Linked DNA regions of Homo sapiens. The protein of the gene in region 1 interacts with the protein of each later gene in a biochemical or structural test. Each region holds a gene or a part of one and is shown on either strand. Other genes may lie near its edges.

Region 1 (7,019 bases):
GATAGCATAATCAATTAGATGTTAGGAAAAGTTCATTGCTTGTCTGAAAAATAAAAAAGAGTAGACGGCTGCTGAAACACTGTCATTTTAAATCTCAAGGTAAAATTATTTAAGAATCTGATTATGTACAACTCAATGACCAGTGAAGCTAAATACAAAACAAAATAATACATGCTCTCTGAATTTCATCCAGATAGACGACTGCTCTTTTATGATTACTATAATCTATATGCTTATAGAAATAAAATACAGGTAACTTAATTATGATCCCTTTTAGCAGCATGGCCCGTCAATTGAGAAAAAAATTAGAACGAGATAAAAGAAAAATATACTTCATTGAAGAATAATCAAAACAAAGATAATGTGCAAATTAACTGAAAATTAACACACAAGCCCTGGGGAAACAGAGTTTCCTCAGCAGCCAACTGAGTTGCTGATGGTTTCTCTTCTAGTCCTAGGACAAAGATGATACTGGATCCCCACCAATCTTAATGGAAAAGTCTCATTCATTTTCATTCTTAAATGTTTTACTTTTTAATTTTTATTTATTTATTTATTTTTTAATGCGGAGTCTGTGTTGCCCAGGCTGGAGTGCGGTGGCATGATCTCAGCTCACTGCAACCTCTGCCTCCCAGGTTCAAGTGATTCTCTTGCCTCAGCCTTCCAAGCAGCTGGGATTACAGGCGTGTGCCACCATGCCTGGCTAATTTTTGAATTTTTAGTAGAGATGAGGCTTCACCATGTTGGCCAGGCTAGTCTCTAACTCCTGACCTCAGGTGATCTGCCCACTTCGGCCTCCCAAAGTGCTAGGATTACAGGCGTAAGCCACCGTGACTGGTCTTCACCATTTTATTTAAAAAATTACATGAAAATGTGTTTTAAATGAGCTGAACAATTTAGACTATAAATATTTCTAATTCCCAAAATGGGAAAGTGGTAACGTAAGTCCATGAGGTCTCAAATGCTAGCACAAAACCTAAATATAAGCCTAAACTCTCAAATATACATGAATCTAATATAGTAATCCCCCTTCTGTGGGACTCTGACATTGCTACCACTTTCTTTTTTTTTTTTTTTTTTTTTTTTTGAGATGAAGTTTCGCTCATTGCCCAGGCTGGAGCGCAATGGCGCAATCTCAGCTCACTGCAACCTCTGCCTCCCGGTTTAAAGCAATTCTCCTGCCTTGGCCTCCTGAGTAGCTGGGATTACAGGCGCCTGCCACCACGCCTGGCTAATTTTTGTATATTTAGTAGAGACAGTTTCACCATGTTGACCAGGCTGGTCTCGAACTCCTGACCTCAGGTGATCCACCCACCTCGGCCTCCCAAAGTACTGGGATTACAAGCATGAGCCACCGCGCCCAGCCCTCAACTCCCTTTACAAAGCATTTTTCTTCTTATAGAGCTGCTACTTAAGTTTTAAAGCCTTTCAACTATTCTGCTAAAAATTATCTTTAGGAACAAAAAATGTTTTTTTCAGTCATCATTCCTTTTATTGATATCCTCTTTAAATCAAAGGGGAACATTTCATAGTAAGAGATTTCTTAGAATGGCTTTAGGATTTCCTATCTGTTAGGCCAGACAGCAAGTTTTGTCACCCCTTAAGGAACAAAAGCTGCACGGCTCTAACATGCTAGCCTGGAATGTGACTCCAGAGCTAACATATTAATTATACACATATTGTCAGAGACATGGTAATGACAAAACGATCCACAATTCATGGACACATATGATCTCTGTGCTAACAAAAATAAAAATAAAAAAGATAAGCAAGACCAAATGTGTTGAAAATAAGAGTAGTAAGTCATGTAAATGTTATGTGGTGATATATATGATACATGATCATGAAATGGAAACCAAACTGGACAAACAGGCTGCTCAACCATATGTTTAGATGCTAGCTTATGAAAATGCAATGTGTAATTTCAGAAAACTCACCCAAAAATGAGTTTAAAATTTACTTGTAATTTGCTAGACCTTCTAATAAATATAGTATTTGTTATGAATCAAGGGTGAATTTCCATAATGTTGTATGACAATTGTAAAAGGTTCATGAGAAAAACGAGAGGTTTACAAAGACATACAGTCTCTAATTAGTGTAAATTGGCAAATTTTATTTAAACCTAATGAATCCATGTAAGACTGGACTGTACTGTCTCGATTATGGAGTCTCATTATAACAGCATCCTTAGGGGTTACATTGTGGCACTACCTAAAAGGTAAAAGTGCTTCAATAAGGGCTCTGCAGGCAATTCCATCACAAAACCCCATGGAATAGGATCACCTCCCACCAATCTTTTGCTAAGCACTACTCTCTGGTAAAGAGTACAGAAGTTTCAATGTTTTGATTTTTTTTTTCCAGGTTGGCATGATACAAATGGCAGCACACAAAAACAATGTTAAAAAATAAACCAAATAAAAGGCTGTACACAAGAACTTATGTTTATTGCAAACAAACAAACAAAAAAAAAAGGAAAGAGAGGAAAAGAGAAAATGGTCAGAAGCACAACATATAAGGTTAAGAATTTAAAAGCATCTTACATTCTGCCCTAATGGCAGCATAATTAATAGCAACAAACGGCCGTCTTGCTGCCTGCCGCAGCCGGAGGGTATTTTTGCAGACCTGACGAGCAAATTTTGTGAAATATGTAGTATGAAGGAAGAAAGCTTGGCGGGTCTTCACTGCAGACTTTGGACTCCCAGTGTTTCGGACTGGCATTCCCTGCATGGCCTGGCGGGACACGTGACTTCTAACACGAGGGTCCTGCAAAATCAGAAAACAACAAACACTCAAGGAAGTGAACTTGCCCAAACACGTTACTGTTTGCATCATGCTCAAAAGAAAAGTGCAACTTTTAAATCTTTCATGAAGCATCTATAACGTCACTTGGTGCACTACCTCTAAAAGAGAGAATTAAAGTGTGCACTTTTGGGAAAGAGGTGGGGAGTAGAGAAGGGAACTGTGGAGAATACTGTACTGCTATACAGGAATCCAAAATCACATTCACAGTAAGTGGTATGAAACTGCCAAGGGGGTTAACTACACTTTTTTTTAAATTAAGGAGTCCTGAAAGCCCGTCAGCACTGAAAAAGGGTAGTCGCCCACTGGTAAACACAGGCGTTTGGCATCTTCAGCCTATGAGGATTTTACCAAAATCACATTTAAACTGTTGTTCACCTCAAGATTAAGTCCATACTTCTTGTCCCTCCAAAACAGCCACGGGGAGAAAAAATGCTTAATTTGCATTTATGACTTTATGTAGTAAGACACGCCTTCAACAGAATGTAAAGGTTACGAACTGTTTTCAAAAGCAATTAAACATTTAATTTGTAAGCTCTCTACTTATGCTAACATCTCCCACACTCATTGTTTTTTTGTCTGAGACCATTATTCTGAATACCTGATAAAATTTAATTTCTCTCTGCTTCTCTCCACACCTACCCTGAATATTGTAGTGCTACGTTTAGCTATAAAGGTAGCTTTCTTCATTTTTTAATTATCCTATACTGTACTTCTGTTTCCAAGGAATAATCAACCCATTTAAAAACATGCCATTTTTCAACACTAAAAAGACTACTGTACCTCTGTAGTTGGGCTAGGAGATAACTTCTCTTCTTCTGACTGGGTGGGCATTTTCAAGCCTCCATATTTTTTCCAATAAAGCCAACAAATTGCACATAATCTACACTGCATATTAGGTGGGCCCCAAGAATACCACTGGTGAGACTGTGTAGCTAAAGCAGAAGAAAAATAAGAAAAAACGAAAAATGCTATTTAATTTGTAACATCAACACAAAATAATCAAACATTTTAAAAATACTTGTCATGCTTAGTTTACAATGTTATTGTTCCCAGCTTACAAGCCAAACATAATAGTATATTTGTTTTTTTAATACTCAGAATTCATTAAACCAACTTATTTCCATTATTATATAAAGTGCTTGTGGCCCTGTTAAAGCTATTCAGTGAAGCATCCTGTATTATGCATTGTGCTGCTGAGGGAGTTTTTGTTTTGTTGATTAAAAATACTCTATTGTGTATGTTTCTGGAAATAGGTTCTCAAAAAGATGGTAGTATTTAAAAAATCTGGGGCCGGACATGGTGGCTCACGCCTGTAATCCCAGCACTTTGGGAGGTTGAGGCAGGCGGACCATGAGGTCAGGAGATCAAGACCATCCTGGCTAACACGGTGAAACCCCGTCTCTACTGAAAACACACAAAAAAAATTAGCCAGGCATGGTGGCACGCACCTGTAGTCCTAGCTACTCGGTAGGCTGAGGCAGTAGAATTGCTTGAATGTGGGAGGCAGAGGTTACAGTGAGCTGAGATCACGCCACTGCACTCCAGCCTGGGCGACAGAGTGAGGCTCCATCTCAAAAGAAAAAAAAAAAAAATCTAAATCCACGTTTCCAAACCCAGGGTTCAGACACCACTCCAAGGATTATTTAAGGTACTCAGGGAGGTCTCATTGATAAAGTCAGGAATCTAATAAAAACAGGTATCTGTCAGCCAGGTGTGGTGGTGAACCCCTGTAGTCCCAGCGACTACAGAGACTGAGGCAGCAGGACTGCTTGAGCCTGGGAGGTTGAGGCCACTGTGATTGCACCACTGCATTCCAGCCTGGGTTACAGAGGGAAGCGGGGAGGAGGAGGGGGCTGGGGAGGGGAAGAGGGAGGGAGTAGGGGAGGAGAGAAGAAACAAACAGGTATCTGTTTTGCACTCCTTTATTTTAATCAATAAGTAAAATCCTTATTTTAAAATCTCCATTTACAGACAGAATCCCTTTCAAGACTCTAAATCCATATGAAGTGAGCATGGGCAGCTGACATCACAGCATGCTTGAGGCCTAAAACTCAGATGATTTAACAGCTAGCTGAACACTGTAAGCTTGTGTTAGTTTTTGTTTTGTAGTTTAAATTACTGACATGTGACATTTAAAATACATGTGTGATAGATCTGAAGTTTAAGAGAAAACATTGAGGTTGAGACATAAGTTAATTGGGTGCATAAAAAATTGTAATTCTGTAAGTTTGCCTTAAAATATTATTTCTCTGACCTGTAAGTTACCTTCAAATGTTCAAACAGCACATGAAGATATCAACTAACACTTCACAAACCAATGTGAAAAAGAGAAAATACAGAGACCATTATATTCATGTTTATCGGGAATAACACTGTACACCCATCATGTATTATTTTTGGAGGATTATTATTTTAGGCTTTTATTTGTGTAAATATTTTAGGCCTATTTTAGGCTTTCATTTATACAAATAACTATTTTATACAAATGAAAGCCTAAAAGCCTTTCCTCCTATAATTTAGAACTAATAAGTCATTTTTTAAATTTTTTATTTTATTATTATTATACCTTAAGTTTTAGGGTACATGTGCACAATGTGCAGGTTAGTTACATATGTATACATGTGCCATGCTGGGGTGCTGCACCCATTAACTCGTCATTTAGCATTAGGTATATCTCCTAAAGCTATCCCTCCCTGCTCCCCCCACCCCACAGCAGTCCCCAGATGTGATGTTCCCCTTCAAAATCTTAAACATTAAGCTATGAATCTATTTTGAATTCTAAATATAAAATTTCACTTAAAACATACATTTTACGTAAACTAATCATGCAAATCATTTTAATAATTGTCAATAAATGCCTTTCTCCTTAAATAACTCAAATTCAATTGGAAAGTAGGTATCATTTAATAAATAGAAAACATCAAGTTCTATCTCTCTGTAAGGATAAATCTTATATTAAGATAACATTTTATCATGGAGATTAGTAATACATGAGTCTAAAGTAAATATTATAAAATAAAAATAGCTTATTCATCATGCACACATAAAAATAACAGAATAATCATTTAAGGGGATATACGTGAGTGTGAAAGGGGTTTGCAAGTTAATTTTTTTTTTGGGGGCGGGGGGGAGACGATGTTTCACTCTGTCACCCAGGTTGGAGTGCAATGGTGCAATCTCAGCTCACTGCAACCTCTGCCTCCTGGGTTCAAGCTATTCTCCTGCCTCAGCCTCCTGAGTAGCTGGGATTACAGGTGCATGCCACCATGCCTGGCTAATTTTTGGTATTTTTAGTAGAGACGGGGTTTCACCATGTTGGCCAGGCTGGTCTCGAACTCCTGACCTCAGGTGATTCACCCGCCTCAGCCTCCCAAAGTGCTGGGATTACAGGCATGAGCCACAGCACCCTGCCTGCAAGTTAAAATCAAGACAGGTTAAGCCACTACCACTTGTCTGCAGGATTCTTTTCATTTTCATTTGAATATACATGAACTACAAAATCCAAGAATTCCCAATTCAAGGTATTTATGATGCTATCCATGTAAAAGCCTGACCTAAAAAATCTTAATTTTCCACAAATTGTTTCCCTTTGTGCTCCCATGCTGCAAAAAAATGGTTAAACACATCCCCATGTACCATTTCTACAAATTCAGCAACTTGGCTCACACCTTCCTTGGGATCAATCGACGTAATCGTACTCACAGCCGTCCCTCATTCCTATATCCTTCCTGAAGGCAGTAGGCTACATGTACTCTCAAAGAGCTACTAAGAACCCAAAATGGGGCACCAAGTAGGTTTTCAATAAACATTCGTTTCCTTCCCTCTCCCATCCCAGGCTACCTTAACTGGAAGGAAACATAGATGATAATATCACCAATGCCCCATTAAGATATTGTATCCTTGCTTGAGATTTAAAATAAACACACAAAGTCTATCAACTACCTAACGGTTCACTTCACCGACCCCATTTAACACCCTGGGCAAATAAAATACTGCCACCATAGATAAATACAGTGGGATCCTGAGGCCAAAAGCAAGTATCATAGAAGAGCATTTCCCAAACTGGTGCACTGAGGGAACATGGTCTGAGGATTATATACAGCAGCTTATCCACACAGAGGCCTTTCCTACAGAATTACTTGGAGCTTTAATTTGTCAAAGTATACTGAGAAACTCCAAAGGGGAATTTGGTATGCATCATGGGAACACAGTTTCTG
Region 2 (7,748 bases), on another chromosome or scaffold:
TGTGTGCCACCACATCCAGCTAATTTTTGTATTTTTAGTACAGACAGGGTTTCACCATATTGCCCAGGCTGGTCTCGCATTCCTGACCTCAAGCAACGGGCCCAACTCGGCTTCCCAAAGTGCTGGGATTATAGGTGTGAGCCGCTGCACCCAGCTGGCCGTATCGCATTTTCTTTATGCAGTCTATCATTGATGGGCATTTAGGTTGATTCCCTGTCTTTGCTATCATAAACAGAAGCATTCTTTCCTAAGAAGGAAATTTAAATCTTGAATAGATTGTGCATTCACAAAGTTTAAGGTACAAAGGCAGTATATTCAGGAAAAAAATCACCCTCCTTTAGGCACCTGTCTCTCCATCCCTAAGGTAGTTCTGCTCCCCAACAGGGAACCAAGGTTACCAGTTCCTCTTTAAACTCTACCCTGTGGAATATTTCAGTGCTTTGGAGCAGAAGGGAAAGTTGGGAATAAGGGTGGTGTGAGGAAGAGGGAGGGCGCAGTCCCAGTGGGAGGGTGCCTGTACAGCCCAGTCTCTAGAACTCTGGGGAGTGGGGAGTGCTCATCCCCCAGTGAGAAGGAAGAAAATGCTTTTCCTCCCTCCAGGCCTGAAGCTTAGCTGTGGATGCAGAGGCTGTTCTTTCTTTTACAGCTTGCTTCAGGCTGAATCTTCTTAGTCTTATCAAAAGCCCTTTCTGTCTTAATCCAGGTTTATCAGCACATCAACATGTCTTTAAATAGAATGCAAATTTAAAACCAATACTAAAAATATTAAAATGGTTTTGCCACCCCCTGCTGTAGCCTATTTATAATTTCAGCCAGTATCATCCCGTGGTGTATTTTTGCTCCCTTCTATATAAAGTAGAGCCATCTTTTGTTAGCATGTGCATGGATGACTCTCCTGAGCTGAGTCCTGCTTAATGCTTCTTTCCTGAATTCCAGATTGCTTACTGGGAAGTATTTGATGGGACAGTAATCAGAGAATTGGAAGGTTCCCTGTCTGGGTCGATAAATGGCATGGATATCACACAGGAAGGGGTGCACTTTGTCACAGGTTAGTCCTGGGATAGGAAAAAGCCAAGCCTGGCTTATTTAGACGAGGACATGGAAGGAACTCCCAGGCTAGAGGCAATTGGAAAAGACAACAAAAGGGTCTCAAGGCAACTTGGTTAGAATCAGATTCCAACCAATACTGCAGCCAATGTGGCTGAGAAAGAAAAATCCAGAAGTCACATTTCAATGAGAGGAAACATTTGCACAAGAGCCTTAAGAGCACAAATAAAAGCCAAGACTTAGATTGCTAGGCTTGCTATTTTTGGTGGGCATTGATAATAGAAATGGGGCCTTTAAATGGCCTGGGCTGTCCAGCATACTTCTAAAGTCTTAAAAGCCAGTCTTTTAATTCCACTTTATTATTGCATGATGCGATGCCCTTCCCACCAAAACAAATGAATTAACCAATATTTCAAAGGGGCATTTACCACACAACATGCCGATTGGAACATCATTATCATTTCCTGCCAAGCTCTTTGATTCATCAGGATATTAACAAATAAATGCGGCCAGGCGTGGTGGCTCATGCCTGTAATCCTAGCACTTTGGGAGGCCAAGGCAGGTGGATCACCTGGGGTCAGGAGTTTGAGACCAGCCTGGCCAACATGGTGAAACCCTGTGTCTACTAAAAACACAAAAATTAGCCGGGCGTGGTGGTGCACGCCTATAATCCCAGCTACTTGGGAGGCTGAGACAGGAGAATTGCTTGAGCCTGGGAGGCGGAGGCTGCAGTGAGCTGAGATCATGCCACTCCACTCCAGCCTGAGTGACAGACAGTCCGTCTCAATAAATAAATAAGTAAAAAATAAATAAATGCATGAAATGAATTAAGTTTCACAAGTACATTGACTACAAAGCAGGTATCAAACTAGACACAGTGTGATCCCAATCATATATATGATGTATATGTATACCAGTATACTTATAGAGAAAAGACTGGAAGGAACTAAGCCAAGATATTACTAGTGGTTATTTCTGGGTAGTGGGATGAAATGTGATTTTACCTCTTTGTATTTCCCCCTCCTCTTCAAATTTACTGCAACAGATAGATTTTTATAATCAAGTAAAAGTGTTATTATAAAGACAGATACATGGGGACCATGTTGAAAATGATCCAGTTATTTGAAATCAGGGCTGTTTCTCTCTCTCCTATTGCAGCAATGCCATATACGTGTTTATCTTTTTCAGGTGGAAATGACCATCTGGTCAAAGTTTGGGATTATAATGAGGGTGAAGTGACTCACGTTGGGGTGGGACACAGTGGCAACATCACACGCATCCGCATAAGTCCAGGAAATCAATATATTGTTAGTGTAAGTGCCGATGGAGCCATTTTGCGATGGAAGTACCCATATACCTCCTGAAGCTGATGAGATGTCTCTGAGCCTTGGCGTTGCACGCAGTCCTGTTGAAGACTGAGTTTAGATAACTCCAACACTAGTCTTCATTTCTCACAGCTCTGTTTTTGTTCTTGAGTCAATTTTTCTCTTTTTCTTTATAGAATGCATTTTATATTCTTAAATTGCATATTAAAATTGAAGTATGTTCAAGAATAATTTGTGCAGACTCTAATTAGAACTTTTAACATTTTGAATAAATTCTTAGTTGTTGGTTTTCTGTTATAATTTGTTTTCTGCAACTCTGCAAAACCCACAGACCTTCCTCATGATCTGTGCACAGACAGCATTGCTATTATCCTCTAAAAATAAGGTGAGGTGAATTTCCTTCTTAATTGCCATTTCATTGGTCAAGCTATATGGGACTAGACTCAGATTTAAATCCAGATCTTGGGCAGGCTTCTTAAAAATTCTCTGAGCCACAATTTTCTCTTTTGTCAAGCAAGAGTAAGTTCCTGCTCAAAAGGTTATTGTGAGAATTAAGTGACTAATGTACTAAAGCATCGGCAGAATTCCTGACAGGGTAGAGAGAAATATGCATGCTTTCTCAAAGAAAATGTGTGGTGTTGGGGATCTCAGGACAATTACCAAAGAAAGATGAAATTACAGAGATGCTTTATTGGAGTTGGCCATTACATCTTTCTTCTGTGCTTTCCACCAGAAGGGTGATGAAATGGACCTTGTGTCCTTGTGTATTAATCACCCAGCCGGGTATCTTTTTCCAGAGAGGGGTAAATAATGGCATTTTCCAGAACGCAAGTCTCCGATTCACAGTACCGTCTGATGTTTTAAGCATGTTATTTATCCTTTAAGTAAGGCTGCTTTTTTGCATGAGGTAACTGCTGTAACCCGGTTTGAAAGATCAAGTTTTTTGTTTGTTTGTTTGTTTTTTGAGACGGAATTTAGCTCTTGTCGCAATTTAGCTCTTGTCGCCCGGCTGGAGTGCAATGGCGCGATCTCGGCTCACTGAATCAAGCGATTCTCCTGCCTCAGCCTCCTGAGTAGCTAGGATTACAGGCATGCGCCACCACGCCTGGCTAATTTTGTATTTTTAGTCGAGACGGGGTTTCACCATGTTGGCCAGGCTGGTCTTGAACTCCTGACCTCAGGTGATCCGCCCGTCTCGGCCTCCCAAGGTGCTGGGATTACAGGCGTGAGCCACCGCGCCCGGCCAGGATCAAGAATATTTAATAAATGATGATCACTTATTAAACAACAAGTAACATTTCAGAGCGTTAGAATACTGCATCTCACATGGTGCTGATCTCTTCCTGAGCTAGAAATTGACGAGAAAGTCATTTTGCAAGACCTTGCCTGATTAATTATAAACCTGACAGTTGCATGGGATAAAGTGAGGGGTGGGGGAGGGGCCCAGGGTTACCCAGGGAATCAAGGGCGGGGCAAGGCCAAACTAATTCTGATTGGGCAATCATTCAACAAGGATCGTGCGTTAAGGAGTGAACCAGAAACCGCGTAGGGGGCGCGCCTGAGAGCCTGAAAACTTCCTGGTTAGCAAATACTGAGGCTGGAAAGGGCCTGAACTTGGCAGTCCATAGATCCAGGTCGAGTTCCGGTTTCCCTGCTTACGGATCGGGCGGCCTCCCTACGTTGCGATAACCTCTCTGAGCCCCCTTCCTTGCCGATTAAAGCAAGGGTGATCAAGTCTTGCAAGTTTTTGGAAAATGATTCTAACCCAATCTGTGGTGTAAAAAAGCAAACCACAACCACTCGGGGGCTTTTTTCACAGGGCAACACGTGGCTCCCAGTTCAGGTCCCGGGTTGGCGGGTGCAGGCACAGACTCTGCCTCCCCCCAAGGGGCAGACGGTCTGGAAGGAGGTGGCGACACCTGTCCGCACACACCTGAGCCTGCGGAGGAACCAGCGGTGCACAAAAGCGCTCCCCACCCCCACACAGCGCCCAGCGCGCGCCTCTCACCACGCCCGAGGCTGTGCTCTGGAGATGCCTGCCTTGCCCTTTTCTTCCTGCAGTAGCCAGGCCTTTACCATTTACTAGGCGCTTTCAGAATGTTCATTTCTCCGTAATTTCCACTGCTTGAAGGCTGCTCGAGGAACAGGAGCAGCGGCGAAACCCAGGTCTGTCGGTTTACGAGGTAAGGAAGGGTGGGGAATCCGACCACGAAGACTCCCAGTCAGCGCAGCGGGGGCGGCACCAGGCAGGGGTAGGGGTGGCCCGGCGCTGCCCTGGAGGGGGCTGGTCGTGCCGCCGGATTCCCGCGCGGGGCGGGGCTGCCCCGCCCTTGGCTCCGCCTCCGCCCCGTCCCCGCACACCTGGCCCGCAGGTAGCCGGCACCAGGAGCCTTAGAGAAGCTGTAGGGCCTGCTGGCCGCTCGTCCGCCTCGCGCCCGGGGGCTCCGCGCCTGGAGCTGCGCCGGCGGCAGCCATGGACCTGGGCCCCGGGGACGCGGCAGGAGGGGGACCGCTCGCGCCCCGGCCCCGCCGCCGCCGCTCCCTGCGCCGCCTGTTCAGCCGCTTCCTGCTGGCGCTGGGCAGCCGCTCACGCCCCGGGGACTCACCGCCCCGGCCCCAGCCGGGACACTGTGATGGCGACGGTGAGGGGGGCTTCGCCTGCGCCCCGGGCCCAGTTCCAGCGGCCCCCGGGAGCCCCGGGGAGGAACGCCCGCCCGGACCCCAGCCCCAGCTCCAGCTCCCCGCCGGCGATGGGGCGCGGCCGCCGGGCGCTCAGGGCTTGAAGAACCACGGCAACACCTGTTTCATGAACGCGGTGGTGCAGTGTCTCAGCAACACCGACCTGCTGGCCGAGTTCCTGGCGCTGGGGCGCTACCGGGCGGCTCCGGGCCGCGCCGAGGTCACCGAGCAGCTGGCGGCGCTGGTGCGCGCGCTCTGGACTCGCGAATACACGCCCCAACTTTCCGCGGAGTTCAAGGTAGGCAGCGCTGCGCCGCCGACCGCCCTGTCCCCCTGGTTTCGCCTCTTGAAAAGTGTGTGCACGATCAGGAAAGGGTTTTCTTGGGGCCTTCTTTAAATGCCGTTGACCAGTTCAGCCCCGGATTACCGGCTTTGTTTTGAGTCGATGTGTTACGCTGTCGCTTGCTTATGTTTTCTTTGTAAATTAATTCTCCTAGGTATTTTGAGAGGGAGTGGGGTGAGCTGGCAGATTGAAGGGTAATCAGCGTTTTTGGATTCAACAAGCATTTGTTGAAGTATTGAAGGCTTGTGGGCCAGACAGTGTTCTAATGCCAGCTCTAGAGCTTCCAGTCTGGAATGATGTGGGGTAGGGAATGGGATGTTGAAGGCCAAGGCCTCAGAGGAAGGAGGTGATGCTTGCGTTGAGATCTGAATGATGAGAAGGATGCAGTCAGGGCAAGCTGTAGGACTAATCCAGGCAGGAGGAACAGCAAGTACAATTGCCATAGACCCGAAGGAGCTGAGTGCTGGAGACAGGGAAAGAAAAGCAGTGGCGTTGGAGCTTAGGAGGCAGATGAGTTTCGCCAGATCACGTAAGACCTAGGAGGCAACGGTAAAGAGTTTGGATTTTATTCTAAGCCCAGTGGAATCTGACAACCTACAGGCCAGGTACCGTGCTGAGTGCCCAGCAAAGGCAGTGAGCGTGCTATTTTGGAGATAGCATCCTTTTGTTTAAGGCGCATTCAATCCCCTACAATGTATGAGCACGGGCTTGCATTTTATTGTCTGCAAGATCACGGTCTACTTACTCGGGTTGCTGCCGGGTCGTGAGGCTTTGTAAATTGTTTGTATCACTTCACCCGGGATTAAAACGGGGTGTTTGTTTGGGGTCCCAGTTGGATTAAAGCGTTCCTGATAATTGATGCACATGGCTTGCTTCCTGCAAAAAAAAAAAAAAAAAAAAGAAAAAAAAGAAAAAAAAAGAAGAAGAAACCCGCAGCTCTGGGCAGAGAACTGAAGCTCCCTACAGACTAGTGATTGTTGTTCTTGGGGGAGGGGGAAACCTGTCAGTGTTCATTCCACAAGCATCACCGCTCTTGAGTTTCAGCCCGAGAAAGCAGTGTTTGCCATGTGACCCATGAGATGCCAACCCCCACCTTCCTCCCTCCTGCCTCCATTAGTGAAGCACTGTTCTGCAGCAGCCAGTGGGTCAAATGGTTGTCACTAAATGTCTCTTTTTGGTGACATTTGCTTTTTAAGAAAGAGGCAGTATAGTATAGTGGTTAAGAGCAAGGTCTCTGGAGTTTTGTGACCTTGAGCAAGTTACCAGATCTCTCTGTGCCGCAACTTTCTTCATCTTTAATATAGAACCATAATGGTACTTACCTCGTTATACGGTTGTTGTATTAAATGAGTTCTATGTAGAACACAGTGCCAGCCCCACAGGAAATGTTCATTATTCTATCACGACACCTTCTCACCTGCAGAAACCTAGAGCAGGGAGGGAGGTAATCTTTATGTACATTTTCTCTTGCTAGATGCATTTCCATCCAGTTACCACAGCAATGGGAGAGGGCTGCAGTAGTTTGAAAACACTTCGAAATTGGCCGAGCGCGGTGGCTCACGCCTGTAATCCCAGCACTTTGGGAGGCCGAGGCGGGTGGATCACGAGGTCAGGAGAGCGAGACCATCCTGGCTAACACGGTGAAACCCCGTCTTTACTAAAAATCCAAAAAAAAAAAAAAAAAAAAAAATTAGCCGGACGTGGTGGCGGGCGCCTGTAGTCCCAGCTACTGGGGAGGCTGGGGCAGGAGAATGGCGTGAACCTGGGAGGCGGAGCTTGCAGTGAGCCGAGATTGCGCCACTGCACTCCAGCCTGGGCAACAGAGCGAGACTCCGTCTCAAAAAAGCAAAGCAAAACAAAACAAAAAACTCCGAAATTAGTAATCACCCTCAATGACTCACCAGAATTCCCTATCTCTCTCCCGCTGTCAAATCCCCAGGGCCTGGGAGCTCCCAGTAAGCCTCAGGGAATTGAAGGATAATCAAGTTTGTAATATGTTAATGAGGGAGATACAATCTGGAATTTCCTGGGATTTTTGGGTAGTCAGCTTTGGAGGGAGGAGTGGAGGATCCCAGAATCCAGGCTTTAAATATTATGGATTGAAATCTAGGTGAGCTCTTCTTATTTTACAGATGGGGAAACATTCGTTCAACAAATATTTATTGAATGTCCAGAGAGTAGACTAGGAATGCATGGAATGCATGATGAGTGATGAGTACAAACCCAGATTCTGGGGCTGCTCTCCAGGAGCTTATGGTCTAGAGGTAGAAATGGATGTTAATGAAATAATCACACAGGCACATGATTGGAACAGAAACATGTTAGAAAGGACAAATACAAGGTGCTATGACAGT

The links.
Region 2: the proteins of MTA3 (region 1) and USP43 form a complex in vitro, tested with the Homo sapiens proteins (one study listed by BioGRID).

Annotation. Positions count from the first base shown.
Region 1 is NC_000002.12:42,704,618-42,711,636, reverse strand, and holds part of MTA3 (metastasis-associated protein MTA3), read right to left. Parts: intron 3,735-7,019; coding exon 3,583-3,734; intron 2,764-3,582; coding exon 2,541-2,763; coding exon of another isoform or gene 2,518-2,540; exon of another isoform or gene 2,093-2,517; intron 1-2,092. UniProt on the Homo sapiens protein: Acts as a component of the histone deacetylase NuRD complex which participates in the remodeling of chromatin.
Region 2 is NC_000017.11:9,640,788-9,648,535, forward strand, and holds the start of USP43 (ubiquitin carboxyl-terminal hydrolase 43), read left to right. Parts: upstream 1-4,767; 5' UTR 4,768-4,845; coding exon 4,846-5,349; exon of another isoform or gene 5,350-5,930; intron 5,931-6,139; exon of another isoform or gene 6,140-6,270; intron 6,271-6,716; exon of another isoform or gene 6,717-7,748. Other genes in the region: CFAP52 (cilia- and flagella-associated protein 52), read left to right, coding at 4,459-4,767. UniProt on the Homo sapiens protein: May recognize and hydrolyze the peptide bond at the C-terminal Gly of ubiquitin. Involved in the processing of poly-ubiquitin precursors as well as that of ubiquitinated proteins.